7 linked regions of the Homo sapiens genome follow. The protein of the gene in region 1 purifies or fractionates together with the protein of each later gene. This does not show direct contact. Each region holds a gene or a part of one and is shown in the gene's direction. Other genes may lie near its edges.

What was found.
Region 2: the proteins of CMTM8 (region 1) and UBXN8 purify together in Homo sapiens (affinity purification with mass spectrometry; one large-scale study listed by BioGRID and IntAct). This does not show direct contact.
Region 3: the proteins of CMTM8 (region 1) and TTK purify together in Homo sapiens (affinity purification with mass spectrometry; one large-scale study listed by BioGRID and IntAct). This does not show direct contact.
Region 4: the proteins of CMTM8 (region 1) and CHCHD6 purify together in Homo sapiens (affinity purification with mass spectrometry; one large-scale study listed by BioGRID and IntAct). This does not show direct contact.
Region 5: the proteins of CMTM8 (region 1) and SLC25A23 purify together in Homo sapiens (affinity purification with mass spectrometry; one large-scale study listed by BioGRID and IntAct). This does not show direct contact.
Region 6: the proteins of CMTM8 (region 1) and HIP1R purify together in Homo sapiens (affinity purification with mass spectrometry; one large-scale study listed by BioGRID and IntAct). This does not show direct contact.
Region 7: the proteins of CMTM8 (region 1) and SLC25A24 purify together in Homo sapiens (affinity purification with mass spectrometry; one large-scale study listed by BioGRID and IntAct). This does not show direct contact.

Annotation. Positions count from the first base shown.
Region 1 is NC_000003.12:32,241,680-32,245,179, forward strand, and holds part of CMTM8 (CKLF-like MARVEL transmembrane domain-containing protein 8), read left to right. Parts: intron 1-3,500.
Region 2 is NC_000008.11:30,757,664-30,761,163, forward strand, and holds part of UBXN8 (UBX domain-containing protein 8), read left to right. Parts: intron 1-3,224; coding exon 3,225-3,266; intron 3,267-3,500. UniProt on the Homo sapiens protein: Involved in endoplasmic reticulum-associated degradation (ERAD) for misfolded lumenal proteins, possibly by tethering VCP to the endoplasmic reticulum membrane. May play a role in reproduction.
Region 3 is NC_000006.12:80,028,649-80,032,148, forward strand, and holds part of TTK (dual specificity protein kinase TTK), read left to right. Parts: intron 1-2,818; coding exon 2,819-2,911; intron 2,912-3,500.
Region 4 is NC_000003.12:126,710,740-126,714,239, forward strand, and holds part of CHCHD6 (MICOS complex subunit MIC25), read left to right. Parts: intron 1-3,500. UniProt on the Homo sapiens protein: Component of the MICOS complex, a large protein complex of the mitochondrial inner membrane that plays crucial roles in the maintenance of crista junctions, inner membrane architecture, and formation of contact sites to the outer membrane.
Region 5 is NC_000019.10:6,456,993-6,460,980, reverse strand, and holds the start of SLC25A23 (mitochondrial adenyl nucleotide antiporter SLC25A23), read left to right. Parts: upstream 1-1,188; 5' UTR 1,189-1,352; coding exon 1,353-1,508; intron 1,509-2,656; coding exon 2,657-2,783; intron 2,784-3,390; coding exon 3,391-3,478; intron 3,479-3,988. UniProt on the Homo sapiens protein: Electroneutral antiporter that mediates the transport of adenine nucleotides through the inner mitochondrial membrane. Originally identified as an ATP-magnesium/inorganic phosphate antiporter, it also acts as a broad specificity adenyl nucleotide antiporter.
Region 6 is NC_000012.12:122,838,457-122,841,956, forward strand, and holds part of HIP1R (huntingtin-interacting protein 1-related protein), read left to right. Parts: intron 1-3,500. UniProt on the Homo sapiens protein: Component of clathrin-coated pits and vesicles, that may link the endocytic machinery to the actin cytoskeleton. Binds 3-phosphoinositides (via ENTH domain).
Region 7 is NC_000001.11:108,190,344-108,193,843, reverse strand, and holds part of SLC25A24 (mitochondrial adenyl nucleotide antiporter SLC25A24), read left to right. Parts: intron 1-1,008; exon of another isoform or gene 1,009-1,222; coding exon of another isoform or gene 1,223-1,348; intron 1,349-3,500. UniProt on the Homo sapiens protein: Electroneutral antiporter that mediates the transport of adenyl nucleotides through the inner mitochondrial membrane. Originally identified as an ATP-magnesium/inorganic phosphate antiporter, it also acts as a broad specificity adenyl nucleotide antiporter.

The DNA of each region.
Region 1 (3,500 bases):
TATCAGGATGTAACCTCATTGTTAAGTCAAGGGGCATCTGTATAGTCTTCAGGTGATTTGGGTTAGATCAGCAGCCAGTGTTGACCTATGACACTGTAAATACCACTTACAACTGACCCAGTGCGTAGACTATGAATGCTTTTCCTTTCCTGCCCAATTTCTTGTTTGCCCTGGTGTTAGTAATTCTCTTTTCTCATTTCATAATTTCTCCAGATATTTAGTCACTAATTTAACCCTAGTTGTTTAAGTCTCCTATCAAGAAGCTGAGAGACATCAGGTATTCTGTCAGAATCGTCTTCATGACTGGCCTCTCTGGGAGCCTCTGGCCTGGTGGCCTGCACACAGCTGGCCGACTGGGCTCTCCTGCACCATCACTCTGAAGATTCTCTTCCTTTCTTTCCTGGGTTGGATCCTCTGCTTCCCATGTCCAGTGTCCTCTGTCTTGCTTTGCTCCCACTGGGGGGACACACAGCCTCTTGTAGTTTTCTAAGAAAGCATGCATGTGGAAATGGAAATTTGCACCTTTCAGAATAGCTTGATTCTATACACAATTCCTAGTTCAACTAGGTAGAGAGTGTTAGACTGAAAATGTTTTTCTTCAGAATTTAAAATGTATTCTTTTATTGTCCTTTAGCTATTCTGATTTAATTTTGTTTTGTTTTGTTTGAGACAGTGTCTTACTCTGTCATCAGGCTGGAGTGTAGTGGTATGATCACAGTGCAACCTACCCCTCCTGGGCTCAAGTGATCCTCCCACCTCAGCCTCCCAAGCCAGCTGTGACCACAGGCATGGGCCACCATGCCTGGTGGATGATTTTTTTGTATTTTTTGTAGAGACAGGGTTTCGCCATGTTGCTCAGGCTGGTCTCGAACTCCTGAACTCAAGTGATCTGCCCACCTCGGCCTCCCAAAGTTCTGGGATTATAGGCATGGGCCACTGCACCTGGCTGTAAAAATTTTTATTTCAATTATTTATCTCCCTCTACCCCCTGACTTCTGGAAATGTGTTGAACCTTCTTTTTCCCAGAGATCTAAAATATCACAATGATGTGCCTTCATATGAGTGTGTTTTCTCCCAGTGTACTGGGCACCTGGTGTGTTCTCTCAAATAAGGAAAATTCACGTAAGTTTCAGGAGACTCCTCCCCATTTTTACAAAGGTATTTTAGTAAACAAAATACAATTTTTTTTTTTTTTTGAGACAGAGTCTGGTTCAGTTGCCCAGGCTGGAGTGCAGTGGGTCTCATAATGTCACTCAGGCTGGAATTGCAGTAGTGCAATCCCAGCTCACTGCAACCTCTGCCTCCTGGGTTCAGGCAATTCTGGTGCCTTAGCCTCCCAAGTAGCTGGGATTATAGGCGTGCACCACCAAGCCTACCTAATTTTTGTATTTTTCATAGAGACAGGGTTTCGCCATGTTGGCTGGGCTGGTCTCGAATTCCTGACCTCAAGTGATCCACCTGTCTCAGCCTCCCAAAGTGCTGGGATTACAGGTGTGAGCCACCTCACCTAACCAAAATAAAATGATAGCTCTCTTAAAAGTTTATAAAAATAAACATTTATACATTGTTGGTCAGGCGTGGTGGTTCACACCTGCAGTCCCAGCACTTTGGGAGGCTGAGGCCAGCAGATTGCCTGAGCCCAGGAGTTTGAGACCAGCCCAGCCAACATGGCGAAAACCCATCTCTACTGAAAATACAAAAATTAGCCCAGCATGGTGCTGGGCATCTGTAGTCTCAGCTACTCGGGAGGCTGAGGCAGAAGGATCATTTGACCCCAGGAGGTCGAGGTTGCAGTGAGCTGGGATTGCGCCACTGCATTCCAACCTGGGTAACATTGTGAGACCCTGTCTCAAAAAAAAAAAAAAAAAAAATCACATTCTTTTAAAAGTATAGGTTGGGAGTGTATCCTCGGACACATTTTTGGATAATTGTCTTCTCTTCTCAGCTGCAGTCCACTCAGACTGACTTTTACATTGTGAATTCAGGAAGGCAGTACAGCTCACTGTGGTTGAATGCATTTGACCTGTGTTCAGTTTCTGGTTCTGCTCTTCACCATGTACAGTGTGAGCCATTCTTTCAATTCGAAAGTATCTCATAGAGTTGTCAGGACCCAAACAACACAGCTGTGCATGAAATGCTTAGCAAAATACCCTGGATTACTCTTCAGTTATCTCCTTCTCTCATTGATGCCTCTCTTCAGCTTCCAGTTTTGCTGTTTTGCTTCCAGCCTTTTCCTTTGGTATATTTTAACTCCAGCAAATGCCAGACAGAGAATTAATGGTTTCTCTGCCAAGATATTATAGCAGCAGGGATGAGTATTCAAGCATCTTCCAGTTCATGGTAGACCAACTTTGAATTCACTCCTGATCAACATAGCTGCCCCCTGCGCCGCCCTGACAAGTACGTGAGGAGAGGGAGCTGTGGAAGGTCAGGTCCAGGGAGCTAGAAGGTTTGATAGTTTCTGGCTGCAGAACCACCTGCACTTGCCCTGCACACCAACCAAGATCTTACCTAAGGAGTTTTTTTGAGACAGAGTCTCACTGTGTCACCCAGGCTGGAGAGTGCAGTGGCACAATCATAGCTCACTGCAACCTGGAACTCCTGGGCTCGAACAGTCCTCCCGCCACAGTCTCCTGAGGAACTGGGATTACAGACATGCACTGCCAATTCTCAGCTAATTTTTTGTTTAGAAACGGGGGTCTCACTGTGTTGCCTAGGCTAGCCTTGAGCTCCTGGCCTCAAGCAGTTCTCCTCCTTAGGCCTCCAAAAACACTGGGATTGCAGGCATGAGCCGTTGCGGCCAGAAGATTTTTTGTTTAATTCGAATTTTCTCTTTCCATTTTCTCAGTTCTTTCTAAAACTCCTTTTATACTTTTTTCTTTGCATATATTTTCTCATGATTTTTTTCTAACTGATCTGTGATATGCTGTTTGCTTTTACTATGCCGTGAACATTTTTCAGGGTCTTGGACCTTTTGAATTATTACCGTTTTCTGTCGTAAAGAAGTACCATACCTGGTTTCCCCAGTTTTCTATTTTAAAACTAATGTGTTTCTAGGGTTTACTAGCATAACCAGTGCTGTAGCAATCTTTTTCTTTGTCTGTCTTTCCACATTTGTCCAGTGCTTTTCTTGAGGAAAAGTTCCTTGAGGTAGAATTGTTGGGCTAAAGGGTATATAAATCTAAGGGTTTTGTGACATAGTCTGAAGTTATCTTCCCCAAAGTTCTACTGGTTGAAACTGTCATCAGTAGTATGAGCCTTTTAAACTAAAAATACTTTAAAAAAATTCCAAATGTTAATGATCACCTTAAATAACGTACTGTGTTTTATTGATTATAATGGGTAGTTTTTGTTCATGTTTTAATATCTGAATCAGGATACTGCTTATAATTGATGGTTTCTTGGATGTCATGAAATATGGACCCATTGATTCTTTATCTGGGGATACAGGAGTGTGTCTGTTTCAAACCTTTGCAATCCCATTCCTGAGACTAAGATAT
Region 2 (3,500 bases), on another chromosome or scaffold:
GCCTGGCTAAGATGGTAAAACCCCATCTCTACTAAAAATACAAAAATTAGCCAGGTGCAGTGGCAGGCGCCTGTAATCCCAGCTACTCAGGAGGCTGAAGCAGGAGAATCTCTTGAACCCAGCGGGGTGGAGGTTGCAGTGAGCCTAGATTGCGCCACTGCACTCCAGCCTGCGCGACAGAGTGAGACTCCGTCTCAAAAAAAAAAAAAAAAAAGAATTGATATTTTTTCTTTGTTTTTTTGAGACAGAGTCTCACTCTGTCGCCCAGACTGGAATACAGTGGTGAAATCTCAGCTCACTGCAGGCTCTGCCTCCTGGGTTCACACCATTCTCACCATTCTCCTGCCTCAGCCTCCCGAGTAGCTGGGACTACAGGCGCCCACCACCCCACCCAGCTAATTTTTTTGTATTTTTAGTAGAGACGGGGTTTCACCATGTTAGCCAGGATGGTCTCAATCTCCTGACCACGTGATCCGCCCGCCTTGGCCTCCCAAAGTGCTGGGATTACAGGCGTGAGCCACTGCGCCCAGCCGAAAATACTCAATTCTTTTTAAGGAATTTGATTATGTAAAAATGAAAAATATAATGCTTACGAAGGGAAGCATTCCTATTAACTTAAGAACATTATCAAGCCCTATCTTGTGAGTGGCTAATAGCTGTTATTAACATGAGTGTATAATTTTCCTTACTGGCCCTTCTAGGGAATAGATTAGCAATCAGTCACTTTGGATTAGTGCCCAGGTTTATTATACATGTTGTTCATTCAAATCTTCAATCCTTAACTAAGTTAATTCCAATTGGAGCTGGAAAAGATTAGAAATAAGAAATCTGTTTTTACTGGCCCTTAGGGAAAGCTGGGAGGCTGTCTATTCCCTGAAAATAGTTTCTAAGATATTGCTTCTCAATCTGAGATTTCCTGGTCCCATAGTGGAGATTGAGCAGGGGAATCAGATTATTGAACTATCACTGACCTTTGAAAAAGATCGATATGAACTAAACGGACTGATTAAAAATTCATGTTTGTGTTTTGTTAATGACACTGTCTTATGCTGATGGCAGATTTTACTTGACAGTCACATATGCTTTTGATACCAAAGGAAAACAAATGAGTTATTTAGCAAATGCAGGTAAGGTTAGATTAAATGTTATAAAATATACTCTATGGTATTAATAAAGAGTTCCTGGAGATGAAGTCATTGGTAACAAATGTTTTTTTTGTTTGTTTTTTTTGTTTTTTTTTTTTTTTTTGAGACGGAGTCTCGCTTTGTCACCCAGGCTGGAGTGCAGTGGCGTGATCTCGGCTCACTGCAAGCTCCTCCTCCCGGCTTCACGCCATTCTCCTGCCTCAGCCTCCCGGGTAGCTGGGACTACAGGTGCCCGCCACCACGCCCGGCTAATTTTTTGTATTTTTAGTAGAGACAGGGTTCCATCGTGTTGGCCAGGATGGTCTCGATCTCCTGACCTCATGATCTGCCCTCCTCGGCCTCCCAAAGTGCTGGGATTACAGGCGTGAGCCACCACGCCCGGCCACAAATGTCTTAATGAAAGAAAATGGTCTAAATATCTGGATTATTTTATTTTTATTTTTTTGAGACAGAGCCTCACTCTGTCACCCAGGCTGGAGTGCAGTGGCACAGTCATGGCTCACTGCAATCTCTGCCTCCTGGGTTCAAGAGATTCTCATGCCTCAACCTCCTGAGTAGCAGGATTACAGGTGTGCGCCACCACGCCTAGCTCATTTTTGTATTTTTAGTAGAGATGGGGTATCACCATGTTGGCCAGGCTGGTCTCAAACTCCTGACCTCAGGTGATCTGCCTGCCTCAGCCCCCGAAAGTTCTGGGATTACAGGCGTGAGACACCACACCCAGCCCAATATCTGGATTCTTAATAGATTAATGGAAATAGGGAAACATGAGTAAATGACAAAAGCAACCAAAGTGAATGGTTTCTGGCAGTCACCTAGGAGTGTGAGTGACAAAAAGTTCATATTCATGTTAAAATGTGTATATGGGCCGGGTGTGGTGGCTCACGCCTGTAATCCCAGGACTTTGGGAGGCTGAGGCAGGCGGATCACAAGGTCAGGAAGTCGAGACCATCTTGGCTAACACGGGGAAACCCTATCTCTACTAAAAAATACAAAAAATTAGCGGGGCATGGTGGCAGGCGCCTGTAGTCCTAGCTACTTGGGAGGCTGAGACAGGAGAATGGCCTGAACCCAGGAGGCAGAGCTTGCAGTGAGCCAAGATCGCGCCACTGCACTCCAGCCTGGGCGACAGAGTGAGACTCCGTCTCAGAAAAATAAATAAATAAAATAAAATAAAATAAAATAAAATAAAATAAAATAAAATATGTATATGTTTGAAGCAAAATAATTTTGGGGTCTTACTGAATTTTCTTTTCTTTTTTTTTTTTTTTAAGATGGAGGCTTGCTCTGTCACCCAGGCCAGAATGCAGTGGCACAACCTCAGCTCACTGCAACCTCTGCTTCATGGGTTCCAAGCGATTTTCCTGCCTCAGCCTCCCGAGTAGCTGGGATTATGGGCACCCGCCATCATGCCTGATAATTTTTGTATTTTTGTAGAGACGGGGTTTCACCATGTGAGCCACGCTGATCATGAACTCTTGACCTCAAGTGATCCACCTGCCTCGGCCTCCCAGTGTGTCGGGATTACAGGCATGAGCCACTGCGCCCAGCTGATACATGTTAACATTTATCCTGTTTTTATATGTATGTATGTGTATATGCATACACAATCATATATATATATATATATATATATTTTTTTTTTTTTTTAAAGTGACAGGGTCTTGCTTTGTTGCAATGGTTGGCCTTGAACTTCTGAGCTCAAGTGATCTTCCTGCCTCAGCCTCCTGAGTTGCTGGGATTACGGACATGAGCCACTGCATCTGGCTTGCTTTTTTACATAGTGCATTTTTATATATTAGTAATATTTTGGAACATAATAGAAGCAAAATCCTTTAAGTATGTATAGATTGGGAGCTATTATCTCAAATCCTATTTTTATGATTAATTTTTAGCACACTTGCCCAAAAATGTTTATTAATTGAACTATTTTCATTATAAACTCTTTATAGATGTATGAAGAAAAGATATAAGTAAGCTTAGATGTGTGTCTAAACTCTGTATTGAGAGGAACTCTTCTCATTGACACTTTTGCTTGTTGAACATGTTTACATTCCTCTTACCAATACTTTTCTTTAGATTCCTGATTTACCTGAAGAACCTTCTCAAACAGCAGAAGAAGTAAGTCTATTTTTCTCTTCGAAAATTAAACTTATTTTCTATTTTCTTTGCTTAACATCCATTAAATATGTCTTATCTAAACTTGGGTTTAGAAAGAAGTGATAGCATAAGTGTTCATGTGATTATACTGTAACTAGGTCTTTTTTAGAACATAGAGACAGGGTCTCACTATGTTGCCTAGGCTGGCCTTGAACTCCTGGGCTCAAGTGATCCACCCGCCTCAGCCTCCTGGGT
Region 3 (3,500 bases), on another chromosome or scaffold:
CTAGTGAGCAGCTTCATTTTGTTTGTTAGTATACAATTCATTTGGAAATGTAAATTTTCAAAAATATCAGAATAGCAATATGAGGTACTGCTAGAATGTATTATACTAATAACTAAACTAAGAGGAAAGATTTTTTGCTGATGAGGCAAAAGTTGGTTTCTAGTAACTGTCCTAGAGGCAGCTTAATACTGGTAGAAAACATGGGCCTTGGAGACACTGGGCATGAATCTTAGCCTCACTACTTACAGTCTGTGTGATCTTTTGCAAGTTACCTAAATTTTCGGTGCCCATTTCATTATCTATAAAATTAGTAAAGCTAACTACCTCCTAGGATGGTTGTGAAGATTAAATTAGTTAATATAGACGTAACTCCTAATACAGAGCATGACACTTAGTAAATCAGAAATGTTAGTAGCAATTGTTATTTAAATAAAACAATAAAAAACCCATGAGTAATTAACTATAAAAATCAACTGATAAAAAAATTAGCTGACAGAATAAGAACAGTGGTTGTCAGGGAAGGGAGGAAGAATGGGGAGTTACTGTTTAATGGGTATAGAGTTTCAGTGGTATTTGCACCACCATCCATCACCAGAACTTTTTCATCATCACATACTGAATGTACTTAATGCCACTGAATTGTACCTAAAAATGGTTAAAGTGGTAAATTTTGCATTATGTATAATTTGCACAGTTTGAAAGAATAATGGACAAAATAATGAGCTGACAGTAGATACTAACTGGAAAGAGGTGATAGTGTTTTAAGGATTGAAACAATATAATAAATTACAAAGGAAAAACAAAAATGATCCAGTTTGTTCATGCATTGATTCAAAACACATTTATTTAGCTATTACTAGTGTCAGGCCCTGTTTGAGTTGCAATCCAGAAGACGAGTCACAGATGACAAGTGAAGGGGCTTGGTGGAGCCTTCTAGAAGAGGCCAGTGTCAGAAGAGAACTGAAACGAGGCCACAGTGTGGCTAGAGGTCAGGAAGGGGAAGGAGTGAGGCCCAAGGTTTGCTGGGCCCTTAAGTTTTACCCTAAGAGGGTGGGAAGCTTTGGAAGAGGTTGAAGCAGGGAAGTGAAATGATCCAATTTGCATTTTGGAAACTCTAACCACAGTGAGTAGGGCATACTAAGGGGGATGCGGGAAGTCCTGTGGAGGAAACCAGAGTTCACATTAGTGTTGAGTCAGAAATAAGAATTACTTTATTCTAAAAACTGTCAGCAGCCGTGGAGAAAGGACATTGAACTGCTTTCTTCCCTTGGCAATGTTCACAGTTTTAAATATGAAAGGAAGAAGACAGAGAAGGCACAAAAGGAGGAGTGGGGAAACCTTGATGAAATTACAACACATACATGTTTAGAAGCCCAATACTTTGTTACAGGAAATATATATAGACAATGTATCTCAATCCTAGAGGTGAAAAAATTAGAATACTTATCTTTTTATTTAAATAGGAGATTACATGAGAGATTCTACCATTTGGAACCTAAAGCAGGCCTTAGTTAAATTGAGGTTTATTCAGACCTTGTTTAACTTGGTTAATCAGCTAATCAGGAGGTCTTTTTGTTTCACCTTCTTTATCAGCTCAGAATAAGTCCTCTCAGCACTCCATCTGTTCAAAGCATTTATAGGTACACAGAGAGATCCTCCAATATAAGGGAAGGAATGATGGGGCTGGTTGTATAGTACATCAACTGAAAGTTTGCTGGGGAAGACGCTGAGGTTCTGAAAAATTAAGTAACTTGTTGAACATCACTCAGGACAAAGTTGGGGGCTGTATTAATGAGTTCTTACACTGCTATAAAGAAAAGAGGTTTAATTGGCTAATGGTTCCACAGGCTGTACAGTAGGCATGATGCTGGCAATCTGGTTGGCTTCTGGGGAGGCCTCAGGAAACTTTCAATCATGGCAGAAGGTGAAAGGGAGCAAATGTCACATGGCTGGAGTGGGAGGGAGAGAGAGAGTTGGGGGCAGATGCCACATACTTTTAAATGACCAGATCTCTTGAGAACTCTCAGAGAAGCACTGAGGAGGAAATCTACCCCCATGATTCAGTCACCTCTCACCAGGCCCCGCCTCCAACATTGGGAATTACAATTTGACATGAAATTTGACAGATCCAAACCATATCAGGGACATTGCTGAAATTTGCATTTGTCTCATTGACTTTGGAGCTCTTAGCACCTTAGCACATTGCTTCCTTTATAATATAACGCTAAATGAGAAAGAAGAATACAGATATAGCCGGATGGTAGTGGCATGCCTGTAATCCCAGCTACTCGGGAGGCTGAGGAGAAGAATCGCTTGATCCTGGGAGGCAGAGGGTGCAGTGAGCCGAGATCATGCCACTGCAGTCCAGTCTGGGAGGCAGAGTGAGATGCTGTCTCAAAAAAAAAAAAAAAGAAAAGAATGCAGCTATAATTATGTGTGTGTATATGTACATATGTAAGTAAAGAGGTATAAGGAAAAAGAATAGAAAAGAAAAATGAAAAATATAATTTTATATTTTATTTTTATATATATTTTTAAGCTTATAAGTTTGCAGATTGCATATTAAGTGGTTTTTTCCTCCTTAAATTTTCTTTTTAAGTCAAAACTAGTTAAAGGGGGAGACCTTGGAAGTTTGTCTACATTATTTTTTAAGGTTTTTTTTCTTTGATTAAGTAGAGCAAGTCCTTTTAAAAATATTGTAACATTTCTAATTAAGATTTAAGATAATTTCAAAATGGGGAGCAGTTGACTGTACCAAATGTAAGCTAGTTTCTTAGGTATATTGATTAACTTTTATTTATATATTTTACTTATTTAGGTTTTAGCATCTTCTTCAGCAAATGAATGCATTTCGGTTAAAGGAAGAATTTATTCCATATTAAAGCAGATAGGAAGTGGAGGTTCAAGCAAGGTAAGTATCTTAAAATATTTACGAAATAAATAAAAATATTTTAAACTTTCTGTTTTTTTGTCTTTTTACCTGTGAGGGCTGCTTTTCCTTTACTTCTAGGGGCGATGCTGCCCTTGAGCCAAAAAGCCATCTTAACACCTGCCTTTCTCTTCCCGCTGCCCCTCACATGTGACATATCCTCTTTAGATCTCTTATTCCCAGTCTTCTGCCTTTCCTTTCAATGTCCTGTGCTTCTAAACTTCTTCTTTAATAACAAAAACATTGACATGGGGTAGCGAATGACCACTATGTATTATCACAAAAGAATCAGAAATTTCTGAGTCAGAATGTGATGTAAATTGCTAATATGTTTAGAATCATTCAGCAAGGATTTTTACTAATGGATTTTGTTTTCTTTTGAGTTATTCATTTCAGAAACAGAATTCAGTAACAAATGAATTTCTGGAATTAGATTATTTTCTAAATTTACCTGAGTTCTAAATTTATATCGTTTTACATCTCTGGATAGAAGGCATCTTAAGCATTATCTAAATTTACCATCATTAATTGTCATTCAATTAAATCTACTTCCATTAGATTTTTGCCTTCA
Region 4 (3,500 bases), about 94 Mb from region 1:
AATGTATAGAAATATAGTTGGTTTCTGTATATTGACTTTGTATCTTGCAACCTCGTTAGGCTCATTTATTAGTTCAAGTAGGGTTTTTCTTGGGGTGGATTTCTTAGGCCTTTTTACAAGTAGGATCATGTTGTTTACAAATAAAGACTGACTTCTTTTCCAGTCTGGATGCCCTTCTTCTTTCCCTCTTGCTTTGGCTAGGATCTCCAGTACAATGCTAAATAGAAGCTGTGAATGTGAACGTCCTTGTCTTGTTCCTGAACTTAGGGTGAAAGCATTCAGTCTTCCATCATTAAGTGTGTTAGGTGTAGGGTTTTCGTAGATGCCCCTTATCAGATTGGTAACTTTATCTTTTAATAGTTACAGCCACTCCTTTCTCTCTGTCCTTATGTCCTTTTTTCCCTTTATAAGCTCTAAGAGGGCAAATCCTGGATTTTCATGATAGTGTCTGCTCATTAATATATACATGTTGGGTTACATGCTTGGATTAATGAATTGGCAGTCCTTCTCTAGCCAAGCTGGCGATCTTGTGGCAGCTGTGCATGAGAATCTTATTCTTCCAGGCTTTAACACAGACCTGTTCGGGATGTGTGCGGCAGACTTTGTTTTCCGCCATGTGGTTGCCTAGTGAAATGCTTCTGAGCTTGCCTCCTTGACTGTTTCAGTTTGAACATGGAAGTTCCTTATGATATGTTTTATATGATTACTTTTCCTGTTCTTTCTTTTGTTCTTGCTGGATGTTAAACTCTGTGCTTGGGATCCTGTTCACTCTAGAATGTCTGCTTTTTGGTTGCAGCATTCATCTTAGTTGACTCACTTAAAGGCAGTGTGGGAAACAGAAGATCCCAGACCTGGACTTATGCCCTGACACTTCAGAAGGATGTGTCTTTCTCCTTATGTGCAAGATAGAGATATGATGTAGCATCTCCATGCGCCCATTTAGCATAGACACCACGAAGGGGTTGCGTTATAGATCGTCTCTGGTCTTCCACAGCTGTAAAGCTCACCTGGCTGTTTGGATGAGTGCAGTTTGATGGAGCCCGCATCAGGAATTGCCAGCTTGGAAAGCCAGAAAACAGGCAGCCAACTTCTCTGCTGCTTTTCAATGAACAGTATCTGCTTCTGATTTCAAGTCCAACAAATGGTTCTTGAGTACACACTGTGTGCCGGTTTCTGGGCTAGCTGCTTTCACATGTGTTATTCTGTTTGATGCTCCTGAATCCATCACATGTTCTGACAAGTGCTGAGGCATTAGAAAACAAGGTAAAGCAAATTCTGCAGGGAAGCACAGTACTTTAGGTCTCTCTACCTTTTCCACCTCAGCTGCTGAGGAGTGGAGGCTCATCTTAAAGACAGGATGGTTGAAGGCCCAGACACCTGCATGTAGATTTCCCGCTGGTGCGTTCCATTTTTCTGCCTTGGTGGTTCTGAAACTCACTGTGTGTGAGAATGACAGCAGGGGACTGTCTACACAACCACACTGTACTTTAGGTGCAGAAGGAATCACTCTCAAGGGTTTAGTTGAATATCCTTTAAATTTTATCATAATATAGTACAGCGTAACCAGTAATACAATCTAAGTAGTACAAGAGTTAAAAGTTATTTCCACCTTCTGACTTCAGCATATGATCCTCATATATGATGAAATTCCATTACATTCCTCCTTTCTTGTATCACAGTACAATGTTGAAGGTCTCTGTATGTAAAAGATAAATCTATAAAATAATATAAATGTAAGGTTGTTAATTGTAACCCTTACTAGGCTCATCTCGGGCCAGTTCCCACATTTGGAAAGTAAACGTGCTGCACTGGAAGGCAGCCTTGATCCTCCCAGGCTTCAAGTGCTGCCTTTTCCCTCTATTGGAAGGGGTCGCTCCTGCTCTCCGCAGTGGCACTAGTGTCCAGCATCAACCACCGTCTCTGCCCTTCCTGTGTCTGGTAGGAGCTTCTGACCGTTTCTGAGCCTGCTATCCCTTCTGTGCCCTGTTCCTGGCCATTCTCTTTCATCCTCATTCATGCACCCATGACTTCTGGATTCTAAATATCCAACCCAGAGCTTTCTAAATGACCCTGCCAGCACCCCCGTGCATGTCCCATGGGTACATTTAATTGACTGTGTCCAAATGGGACTCACCCGCATTTCTTCTCTGCCCCCTTAGAGATGACCCTTGTCTCTTCTGTTGTGAGTAGCTCTACTATCCAGTCCTTCATCCGGAAAGCTGGCGGTCATCCACGTTCCTCTCTTTCTCTATATTCATGACAAGTCTTGAGCTTTACCTTACAGCAGTTTCTCCGTTTTGTTCTCTCCTCTTTGTCCTTCCTACTCTCAGTTCAGGCCTATACTATCTTCCCCTTGACCAGCTGACAAATTGTTCTTTATTAGCTTGCTTCCCACAAATCTATACTTTCTGGTGCTACCAGGCTATTTTTTTTAAAAAACGCAAATTTTACTTTTGAACAGGTTTCCAGGAGATGGTCATTAAATGCAGACAGTTAAAAAGGAGTTGCCCGGGGAAAAGCTTGTCTCCCTTCCACTGTGTTTTGTCAGTCCTGCTCCCAGAGGCAGCCCGTGACCAGCTTCTTGTGTCCCGGGGACTGTTCAGAGTTGAGGCTGATTGTGTCACATCCTTTCATGTCTCCCCCTTGCCTCTTGGTTAAAGGCATGTTTCCGGGCCTGGCTCACAAGGTCCTTCATGTGTGGGCGCCACTTTCTGCCTTCACTGCGCCTCCCTGCAGGGACACTTGATCCTGCGGGACCCTAAGCTGCTTCATGCATGTGTGCCTGTGATTCTCCTCCTTTGGCTGGCCAGGTGGAAGTGTTGCCTTCAGAAGGAGCCTTTGGTGGTGTCCCCTGCAGACTCTGTGGTCCCCTCCCAGGGCTTAGTGCCCTGGGCCAAAATGATCTATTCCACACTTACTTCCTTTCTGCCCCATGAACAGGGGCCACATCTTCTTCGTCTCTCTGTCCCCAGCACCTAAGCCAGAGCTTGGCACAAGTCAGTAAAATACTTGTTGGATAAAAGTTTAAGCCACTGGCTCAGTTTTTCTTGCCTCAAACTATGACTCCAGAAACTTAATGATATTAATTGATTTTAAGTAATTGCCACCATTTAAAAGTTGGGAGGCTTTAGATCGAGACCATCCTGTCTAATATGGTGAAACCCTGTCTCTACTAAAAATACAAAAAGTTAGCCGGGCATGGTGGTGGGTGCCTGTAGTCCCAGCTACTTGGGAGGCTGAGGCAGGAGAATGGCATGAACCTGGGAGGCGGAGCTTGCAGTGAGCTGAGATCGCACCACTGCACTCCAGCCTGGGCGACAGAGCCAGACTGCATCTCAAAAAAAAAAAAAAAAAAAAAAAAAAAGTTGGGAGGCTTTACATAAAATTTATTTTTAGCTTTTTTGGGGGAACAAATGGAAAGTCTGCCATTCTTGTGTGACAACACTTTGCTGGAGTTGCAAAGTGGCTACACTCTTCAGGTGGCTGTGCAGTCTCATTAC
Region 5 (3,988 bases), on another chromosome or scaffold:
CCAGCCTGAGCAACAACAGCGAAACTCCGTTTCAAAAAAAAAAAAAAAAAAAAGATAATTAATTCTTTCTAGGGTATAGAGTGATGGTTAAGGATCCCAGATCTCTTTAAACCCTGTTTTGCCCCTTAGTGGTCATCAGGACTGGGGAGAATGACTTAACCTCCGCTTCCTTATCTGCAAAGTGCGAACGCCAGTACCACCTACCTTATAGGGTTTTGGCAAAGACGACTCGAGAGGTGAGTAAAAGCCCTGGCATGTGCAAAGCACTGAATCAAAGTGAGATTTGTTATCGAGTATTCGCTGTCAAGTGGTCTGGGCTCCCTTCCCCCTAATGGTGGATCGAGAAACTGCGCCCGAAACTAGCAGTAGGGACATTCCGCAGGTGCAGCGAGTGCGACAGGCTGGGGCCCTGCCTCCAGCGCTCGACCACTGGGATCCTCAACCCCGCGCCCGGGTCACTGAGCCACCCCCTCCCCACGCCGCTCAGCGTCTGATTGCGGCCGCGGCCCCTTTAAGATCTCCTGGCAGGCGGTGGGACTGCGGGCTGGAGGCAGTCGGGGGTCTGCGGGGAGGCCCCGCCTAGGTGGGAGAAGAGGCGGGGCGGGCGGGCTCAGCCCAGGAGGCGCTGACCAATAGGAAACCGACTTTGCAGCCGCGCCGCGCGTTGATTTTCTGTTTCCCAGTCAGAGTGGGAACCGAGAAAGGAAGCGCGCGGGCGGGAAGAAGGGACAGTGGGAGAGCATCGCTCCTGGATCTTCTGTTTCTGCGGCCGAGCGGGGAAGGTGTAAGGCGCGGGCGGGCAGAGAGCGAGCGAGATGGTGCACGGTTCTTGCGTGCGTCTGGGAAAAGCGAGAACTTGAGTTCCTGAAGATTAGTGGGTGTGGCGGGGAGGTCAAGTGGAAGGGGATTATGAAACCCAATCCCCGACAGCGCTCTACCTTGCCCCCTTGGGCAAAGGGGGAAAGGGTAAACTGAGGCACGCAGAGGCGGAACTCTGAAACCAGACCTGAGACCACTGAGCTCCCTAGCCCGTCTTCCCAGAAGGAACTCTGGTGTTCCTCGGCTGTGCAATACCAGACCATCCCAGACATTCCCTCCCCACGCCCCCAGCTCCGCCCTCGGTCCCCTCCCCCCAATGCAGGTCGGGGGAGGAGACGCAAGTTCTGGCGCGGGCGGCGACGGCTAGCCGTCACCACCTCCCGCAAGTGCCAGAGCCGAGCGGACTGCGCGGAGGCTGCGGAGCCGGCGGCCGCGGGAGCTGACCCTGCGGGGTCCCGGGGGGGGAGGGGGAGCCGCGAAGCCCCCACTGAGGCCGCCGCTGCCGGGCCTCCCCTCCCCCCCGGGCGGGCGCCATGCGGGGGAGCCCGGGCGACGCGGAGCGGCGGCAGCGCTGGGGTCGCCTGTTCGAGGAGCTGGACAGTAACAAGGATGGCCGCGTGGACGTGCACGAGTTGCGCCAGGGGCTGGCCAGGCTGGGCGGGGGCAACCCAGACCCCGGCGCCCAACAGGTACCCCCACCCCCAGGGACCTCCTCCCCTCCCGGCCCCGCCCGCTCCCGGTTACCCAAGCCCCTGAACTGGGCGGCCGGAGCCACCAGGGACTACCTGTGGCTGGACTCCAGAACCTGTGTCTCTGTCTCGTTCCCCCTACCCACTCGTGTTTGGCCTAACGGGATCGCTCAAGACAGGGACGCCGAGGCCCCAAGCCTGCAGTTCCGCGGCCAACACCCGATCCCCCTGCTGCGGGGCAGGGGGCGTCTGCCTGGGAAGAGATGGGGGCGCTTTCCTGCCCACTGCCCGGGACACACCCTCCTCCAGACTGCACAGCCCATGACGTGCCCTGCTCTCACCTCCAGGAGACACACCCTCCATCCTCTGGGCACCTACTGCCCTGGCCTGCAGCTGCCCCGATCCCTGTGTTTACATTCCCTGGCCTGCCCTTTCATGGGCCGTTCACGGGCCTGGCTCACTGTCCCGGGCTGCCCCAGCCAGGGACCCAATCCTGTCTGCGGTCACCCGCAGCTGGGAATGCACCTATAACAAGACTTTCCTCCCGCTGCCCCCACCTCCACTTTGCAGGTCCTTCCCACACCTGTAGCCCCAGATCGCTCTAAGAGAACCACAGCAACCCTGAGAGCAGTCCAACCTCCCACTTCCCAAATGGGAAAAACCAAGGCCTCAGCCACTCCGCTTGGTTCTCTCCTGCCCCACATCGCCCAGGGCTTCCTCCAAAGGGAACCCCTGGGTCCCCCATGTGGACAGGGTTTTTTAAGAGGCAGCTGGGTTCAACAGGAATGAGATACCTAAAAAAATAACAAAAACTAAAAACAAGAGACAGCTGGAAGGACAGGCTTTACAGATGAGAACTGAGGTTACCATTTCCTGGTTCTGTGACCTTGAACTGGTGACTTGACCTTGCAGAGCCTCAGTTTGCTCACCAGGAAAACTAGACCACTCACACCCACCGCACAGACCTGTGGTGGCTGTAGGGATCTGGCTGAGAAGTTAGCTGACTGAGGGAGAAGTGGGGTGACGTCTTCTATCCCCTTCCTCAAGGCGCTGGGGGCTCTGGGTTCCTAAGGCATAAGGTGACATGCGTCCCCTCCAGATCAGGAGCAGGTTCCTGGAGCCACCTCTATCCCCTTTCCCTCTGTCAGGGTATCTCCTCTGAGGGTGATGCTGACCCAGATGGCGGGCTCGACCTGGAGGAATTTTCCCGCTATCTGCAGGAGCGGGAACAGCGTCTGCTGCTCATGTTTCACAGTCTTGACCGGAACCAGGATGGTAAGGTCGGGCGACCTGCCTGCAGGCCCCAAGGGATAGGGCTGTGGGGGCCCTAGAGACATCAGTGGGGTTAGAACTGGCAGCGCTAGGAGGAGAGGGGGAGGGCCGCTTCTCCCCGATGACTCATAGGCTATTTCAGGAGCACTCCTCACCCCCTAGCTAGGTGGTTCGAGGCCCAGCCAGCCCATCCCACCTCCTTTCCCTACTGGGGCAGAACCCCGATAATTACCCTTAGATTTTTCTATGGGGCAAAGATACCCTATGCTGTTCCTGGGTCCCCTGTGGGACAGAGATCCCCTCATAGCAGCATCTGGGTTGTGGATATTGCCTCTCAATCCCCCATGGCATAGAGACCCCTACAATTACCCCTGGATTCCTTCATTCATTTACAGAACAGAGAAGCCCCCCCAGTATTTCCCAGTTCCACCTCTCTGACCCCAGTGAGTCAGGGGTCCCCCCACAGCCCTACTGCAAACCTCCTCCTAGGTTTCTGGAGCCCCTGATCTTGCTAGACCACCTCCATTCCAAGCTGTTCTGATCCTTGGTCCTGGGGTTCCCCAGGTGTCCTCACACGCACATCCTTCCCCACCTCCGGCCCCCTCCCCAGGTCACATTGATGTCTCTGAGATCCAACAGAGTTTCCGAGCTCTGGGCATTTCCATCTCGCTGGAGCAGGCTGAGAAAATTTTGCACAGGTGAGTCGCTGGGGGTCTGGAATCCAAAGTAACTCAGGACACAGTGACCCCTTGGCCATCTCTGTCTTCTGGGCTCCAGACCCAGTCCCAAGGAGGATACAGCTGAGAGGTTGGGGCTTTGAAGTCAGACAGATCTGGCCAGGCGCAGTGGCTCACATCTGTAACCCCAGCACTTTGGGAGGCTGAGGCAGGTGGATCACCTGAGGTCAGGAGTTGGGGACCAGCCTGGCCAACATGGTAAAACCCCATCTCTACTAAAAATACAAACATTGGCCAGGCGTGGTGGTGCATGCCTGTAATTCCAGCTACTTGGGGAGGCTGAGGCACGGGAATCCCTTAAACCCAAGAGGTGGAGGTTGCAGTGAGCCAAGATCAGGCCAGGACACTCTAACCAGGGTGACGGAGTGAGACTCCTTCTGGAAAAAAAAAAAAAAAAAGAAAGAAAAATTCAAATTGAAGCCAGACAGATCTGGGACCAGTTGCCTCTCTTAGCCCGTTTCCCCCTCTACA
Region 6 (3,500 bases), on another chromosome or scaffold:
GAGGGTGTGGTATCATAAAGGCACTAGTAGGTAGATAGACCTAGGCTCTAGCCTGTGTCCCTGGCAAGTTGCTTAACTTGTAAATCTATGTCCTTGTCTGAAAAAAAAACCATACAGATCGTTCCAGCTATCGTATAGGGCTGTTGTAAGGTGTAAGAGAGAGACCGTGTGGCAGCTAGAACCTGTGACTACGTTAATGACTTAGTAAGGCGTTGCAGGTGGAATTAGAGTTTTTCATCAGCTGAGATGGTCCTTGAGATGGGGCGATTCTCCTGGGCTACCAGGTGGGCTCAGTGTAATCACAAAGGTCTTTAAATGTGGACAAGGGAGGCAGGAGAGGAGGTCGGACTGAGTCCATGTGAGAAAGACTCACTGCCTGCTGCTGGGGAGGAGCCACTAGCCAAGGAGTATGGGCATCCTCCACAGCCTGGAAAAGGCGAGGAAATGGATTCTTCCCTAGAGCCTCCAGGAGGAAACACAGCCTTTCTGACACTTTGCTTTTAGTCCTGTGAGACCTGTTTTAGACTTCCGACCTCCAGAACTGCGAGTTTGTGTGATTTGTTATGGCAGCCATAAGGAACTAATACATCCAGTATGTAAACATGAAAGAGCACCTAGGGCATAGAAGGGCCTCAGCAGATACTTGGCCCAACCGTCTTTCTCCCTTCCCTTCCTCGGCTGAAAAGTTTAACATCTAGAGAAGAAAGCATCTTTGAAGCATATCATGAAGAAGGACTCAGTTAGGAGTACTGGAAATGCTAATGGTGAGTCCTGCCTTTTCCTGATCTGTGAACCTTTCTGCTTCACTGGGCCTCAGTTTCCACTGCAGGCCCACAGGATGGAGATCAAGCCCAGAAGATTCCTCTCAGGTTAGGATGAGAGAAACCCTTTACTACACTGCAAGGCCTCTGGCCACTGCTGAGTGAGCCAAGTCTGGCGGGTGAGCATTAACTGTAGACATGAAACTACCCAGGTGTAAGGGGTTCCTGTGGGGCAGGGACTGTCTAGGGCAGCAATATGTGGAAACAGTTCATAGGTCCAATTTTCCAGGTTGGTGACATACATGCTTAGCATCCCCCGTGAAACCAAAATCCTGTCAAGATTAACATTTATTGACAACTGAGGGCTTCTCAGCCCCGGCACACAGTAGAGCAGTGTTGTCCAGGAGGAACCAGAGGCAAGCCACGTGTGTACTTTTAGATTGTCTAGTAACTACTAGAAAAGTCAACAGAAACAGGTGCGATTAACTGTAATAGCATATTTTATTTAACCCAGTATATCCAAAAGCTAGCCCTTTCAACATGTAATTGCCACAAAAATTATGAATAGGAGAATTTACATTCTTTTTCTCCTACTAAATCTTTGAAATAGGTATGCACTGGACACTCACAGCTGATCTCAGTCTGGACTCACCACCTTTCCAATACTCACAGCCCGCACCGGCCAGCGGCTACCGTGCCGGACAATGCAAGTGTTAGAATCACCTGGTGGCTTTTAGAAAAGGGCAACATTTACGTGTATAGGAGTGATTTGCCCGCAGCATGGCATGGGCGTTGAGCTCGTTGTTCCTGGGCATGCGCACTGCTGTCTCGCCCCGTGACATCCTCTGCTCGGTTCCACCCCATCAGCCCACATGGTGATGCCCTCGTGGTGATGCCCGGCAGGCCGCTGACTTCCCGACCCCTGGGCTGCATATTGCCTCCCTGGCAGAGCTATTCCAGAGGCTGTTCTTGGTCCAGGTTGGGGTGGGAAGGGGCCACCCATCCTTGACCTCCCCCTCCCTGTCTCTGATGTGTTTTGATGCCCATGACACATTCCTGAGCGCCGCTTGCTGTCTTACCATTTGGCCTGTTCCTGTAGCTTTGGGGTGTGCCCCAGGAAGGTCCGAGTCATCTTTGTACCCTCTAAGAGGTGGAGAGATGCCAACTGTGGCCACGTGTGGAATGGTAGGGCAGTCAAGAGCAAGCTCCAGGTTCAGCCCCTGGCTCTGTCCCTTCACCACTCTGCCTCAGTTTCCTTATCTACAAAATGGGGGCAATAATACTACACACCTCCTGGAGTGGTTGTGAAGAAATTTACAGGTGTTCATAGTGCCTGGTGTGTAGTGAATGCCGTGTAAGTGTTGGCTGTTATGTTGTGTTCAGAAGAGCAGGCTGGGCTGAAAGAGAGAAACAAGCTCCCTGTTGAGCTCTGCCCGGTGCCCTTAGATTAGCTGTAAGCGGAGGCCTTGTGTGCTGGGGCGGTTGGGGAGAAAAGTGGATCTGCACAGAGGTTGGGGGGACTCAGGCAGGTGGGGACAGCCCTTCCCTGGAAGAGTGAGCCCAGAGGTGCCACATTATGAAGGCTCTCCAGGGTTGGGAGGATATTCTGGGGGACGACAGCCTCAGGAGGTGCAGACAAAGCCAGCAGGAGCCTTGCCTGGCAGAACTGCTCACCCTCTGAATAGGGACAGGCGCAGACGAGGCCCCTTCTCTGACCTGATCCAGAAGCCAGCCTCCCAGCCAGCGCTGCACCGGTCATTCGCGAATGAAACCCAGCTGGCCACTGGATCCCAGCAGCTTAAAGTGGAAAGCCTCTGAGTGGAGTCCAGGCCTGCTTGGCCAAGGGACAGGGATACCCAGCCGGCTAACCTGAGACGCCTTGGCTGCTCTGTTGGCAATGCCCTTACCCGCCCCCTCCCCGCCCAACTTGGTAATCTGCGATGCTAACTTGAATATCACCTCCTCTGTGCAGCCACCCGCTGCCGTCCTCCTGCCCAAGCCTCTCTGTGCTGCCCAGTCCTCATGACATTATTTGCGCTGCTTCCACATCTGCCCTGACACGCTGTGGCTGGCCCAGCAGAGCGGGAGGAAGCAGACAGACATGGGGTGGGCGCATGTGTAGACCAGGCTCGCCTGAGAAGTGGGAGTGTGTCATCTCCTTGCCGAGTTCCCTGAGCAACTGCTCAGACCTGCACCAGCCACCTACCCTGGGGTCATCAGGCAGGGCCGCGTCGTAAGTGGCTGGATGAGTGGATGCTCAGGGGCCAGTGGTCTCCCTTCTTTGATGCTGTCTTCTTGGTGAGGTCTGAAAGGCTCATGGCCATCCATTCTAGGGAATGACTGAGGCCTGGAGAAAAGTTTATTTGGGGCGAGATTGTTTTTTCTCTGGCTAAAATAAACATGATCCTCAAACTGCAGTAGGTTCATCTGCTTGGAGGTGACTCAGGCTCCTGGCTTTTGGGACAGACGGGTTTGTGGAGTGATGTCACCAGGGCCCAGGGAATGAAACTGCACGACCTGGCTGCCTGTCACTTCCAGAGCCAGCCTGGCAGAGGGGTGACGCAGGAACAGTCCTCCTACTACTGGGTGTCACCCACAAAGCCTGGGGCGGAGGTGGCAGTGGGTCAGGCGGCAACATTGTAACCAGTGTCCTGGGGAACCTGGGCTCTCATGCTCCCCTCGGGAGCTTTCCTAAACGCTGAAATGACGGAGTGGCCAGGACCAAGCAGGCCTGGGTGA
Region 7 (3,500 bases), on another chromosome or scaffold:
GGGACCCAAGATCACTGAACTTTTGCCTATTTTGAGATCATCTTTCCAATCCAGCCACTAACAGCTGAAGGATAGGCTTGCCCTGGAGCCATTGTAGTGGTTGGATGAAGATAAAAGATAAAAAACTGTGAGGGGAGGTGTCACAGAAGAAAGGGCCCATGTGGGCAGATTTTCATTCAATTCCTAGTCTTTATTACAGCAATTCTCCAGTGCTGCAACCTTAGAAAAGGATTCCTACAACACAATGTAGGTACCCATCAGCAGCAGATTGGATAAAGAAAATGTGGTACATACACACCATGGAATACTATGCAGCCATAAAAAAGGAGCAAAATCATGTCCTTTGCAGCAATATGAATGCAGCTGGAAGCCAATAACTTAAACGAATTATTGTAGAAACAGAAAAACAAATACTGTGTTCTCATTTACAGGGGGAGCTAAACCTTGGGTAAATGGGGCATAAAGATGGGAACAATAGACACTAGGGACTCCAAAAGGGGGGAGGGAGGGAGGAGGGCAAGGGCTGGAAAGCTTCCTACTGGGTACTTTGTTCACAACCTGGGTGATGGCACGATTAGGAGCTCAAACCCCAGTATCACACAGTATACCCTTGTAACAAGCTGATGGTGTAACCCCTGAATCTACAATAAAATTATTTTATTTTAAAAAATCATTATAAGGATTTTTAAAAAGAAGGATTCCTAGACAGGTGCAGCCAAACAATTTTTTTTAAATGTTGGCAGGCCGCCACCGCCAGTCACTTATGCTGCAATAGCCCATGTCCCAACATTCCCAACCTACTTCTCTCCAAAAGAGAAGCTATACTTTCAGATGGCCCTGTGCTGGGTTCTCCCTGGAAGTTTCTGGGGAAAGGGGCTTGAGTTGCCCCGACTGGACTCTTCCTGGAGTGGGAGCCGGGGCTTCTGATCAGACGTGAGTGAGGCAGGAACTCCGCGGTCTCCCAGCGCAGCCCAGAGTGCGGTCCCACGCAGGTCCCGGGTCCTGCGCGCTCGCGCCTTTGCGCTGAAGCCGTTAGGATGAGCCCTCTCCTTCCAGAGCTTTAACCGATGAAGGTGCATTGTGTTTGGCGCCCCTGAGGAGGATGCTGTCTTAGGCCTCTTCCCACTGGACGTGTGTGGTGGGCAGAGATCCCGTTCGTCGGTCGCACTTCCACCCCGCTGGGGCTCACTCAGGCCGCGGAGCTGCGAGGGAGACATCCTCGATGGACTCCCTCTACGGAGATCTCTTTTGGTACCTGGACTATAACAAGGATGGGACCTTGGACATTTTTGAGCTTCAGGAAGGCCTGGAGGATGTAGGGGCCATTCAATCTCTAGAGGAAGCGAAGGTGGGTCTCACTGGGGCTGTAATCAGAGAGACGTTGGGGCTGGGAGCCCTGGAGAGGCATTGGGCAGAGAGGGCAAAATTTACATGTTGTCAAGCTTGACCTGGGCCCACTGCAGTGTTCAGGTCGTTGACCAGCGTTACCGTTTATTAAGAATAACAACACAGCTAACACATTTCTCAAGTATTTTTCTCCGTTTTCTCCTTGGCTGTAGTAAAATCTCCAACTTCAGATTGCTCTCAAGATGTTGGCTACATACAGCCTTGTCTTAGGAGTCACCTTGTTCAATGTGCTCACCTGTCATTAGTCACCCAGAGGGGCGTCTAGGCTAAAGATGCGCCCTCCCCAGTTCAGAGAACTGGAATAATCACTCTACGTGTATTTGGGAGTGGGGTGGTGATTGGAAATTTTCTGATGTTATGTTTCGGTTTCTGTTCCTGGAAGGGGGCAGTGGAAGTGGCTTTTACTCTCGGGTTTCACTAGTGCTGAGGTTTCCTCATAATATGCCTTAATTGATAGACCCTAGTTATCAGTACCGAGCTTAGGCTAACCCTTCTCTTCCCCAGAAGGCTAACCTACAGGCTCCTTCTCAGCATGTTGTGCTTCGTACATACTCCTATTGCAGTATTTCCAAGTCATTTTTCATTTGGAATTTATTATTGTATATAATAATTACTTTATAAGTATATTTGCTCTTTGGATGTTTGACCCGGTAGACTGGGAGATCATGAGCATGTGGACTATTGAGTTTATTTTGGATAATTGGTACTTCGTGCCCAAAAAACTGTCAGTTGAGTTCTGTCATGTTGAAATTTAGTAAAACTCTTTCTATTAGCCATGTGAACTTTGGGAATATTGAAGCATCCATTCAGTCATGGGTCAGTTCTAGTTTGAGCACATTCTATATTCCAAGCCCCATACCCTGGTATCCTCATCTGTTATATCAGAGGCCTGGACTGTGTACTTTCTGTGGACCAATTCAGTCCAAAATGTTATTTCTGCAAAGCTTATCTGGATTTTTAATTCCTAGAAAAAAGCAGTGTTTCTCCTTTTAAAGTTAAGTGTTCTTGTTCAGGTGCAGTGGCTCATGCCTGTAATTCCAGCACTTTGGGAGGCCAAGGCAGGTGGATCACTTGGGGTCAGGAGTTCAAGACCAGCCTGGCCAATATGGTAAAACCCCATCTCTACTAAAAATGCAAAAATTAACCGGGTGTGGTGGTGGGTGTGTGTAGTCCCAGGAGGCTGAGGCAGGAGAATCACTTGAGCCTGGGAGGCAGAGGTTGCAGCAAGCTGAGATTGCATCACTGCACTCCAACCTGGGTGACAGAGTGAGACTCCATCTCAAAAAGAAAAAAAAAAAGTTAAGTGTTCTTCATATTTGTTTAAAGACACTCTTATATTTAGATTTGCAAGTGTAAGTTGTATTTGTTTATTTGATACAAACTAGCCTTTCATAAGAAATTCTGGGTTAGCTATCAAGTCGAATCTTTTGAAACACATTTCTTCCTTATTGAAACAAAAGGTTTGTAGAGCTGTCTTGCATTTTTGGCAAGGACGCTTTGTGTACCTAGTGGTGACTGAGGAGGGTTCACATGTCAAAACCCAAGGGAGGGGTGTCCCCAGAGAATTCTGCACCAACCACACAGAACATTCTGTTTCAGAGGAGCACCATTGTGACTTTTCCTCAAGTGGCAGTCACATCGTTAGGAGGTTTTGATGTGAGGTCTCTTCCCACACGTCTCCACCTCCCCAGTAGGAAAATTTGTTTATATAGACAAAACTCAACTGATTAAAAAAAAAAAAAAGAAATGATACTTACATTGTCGTGTTAAGATACAAAAGCAATAACTTTTTATTGTGAAAATAGTCTGTTTTTGAACAATATATTGTTTTGTTTTTTCCTGTGAAAGTTGAGAAACTAAATATACGAAGAGATAATGGTCAGACCATAAATAAAAATAGAACTTTGACTCAAAATTTACAGCAGTCTGCCCAGAAAACCAGCCCTTTATCTAAAATAAACAGACCAGGAAACCAGCCTGTTATGTCAGACTTATAGGAAGTCAGGTTGCTATCTCTAGAGACAATACACAAAGCTATGCAATAACTGCTGTAACAGCCCCAAATGGTCAGAATTTGATTAATAACCGACAGC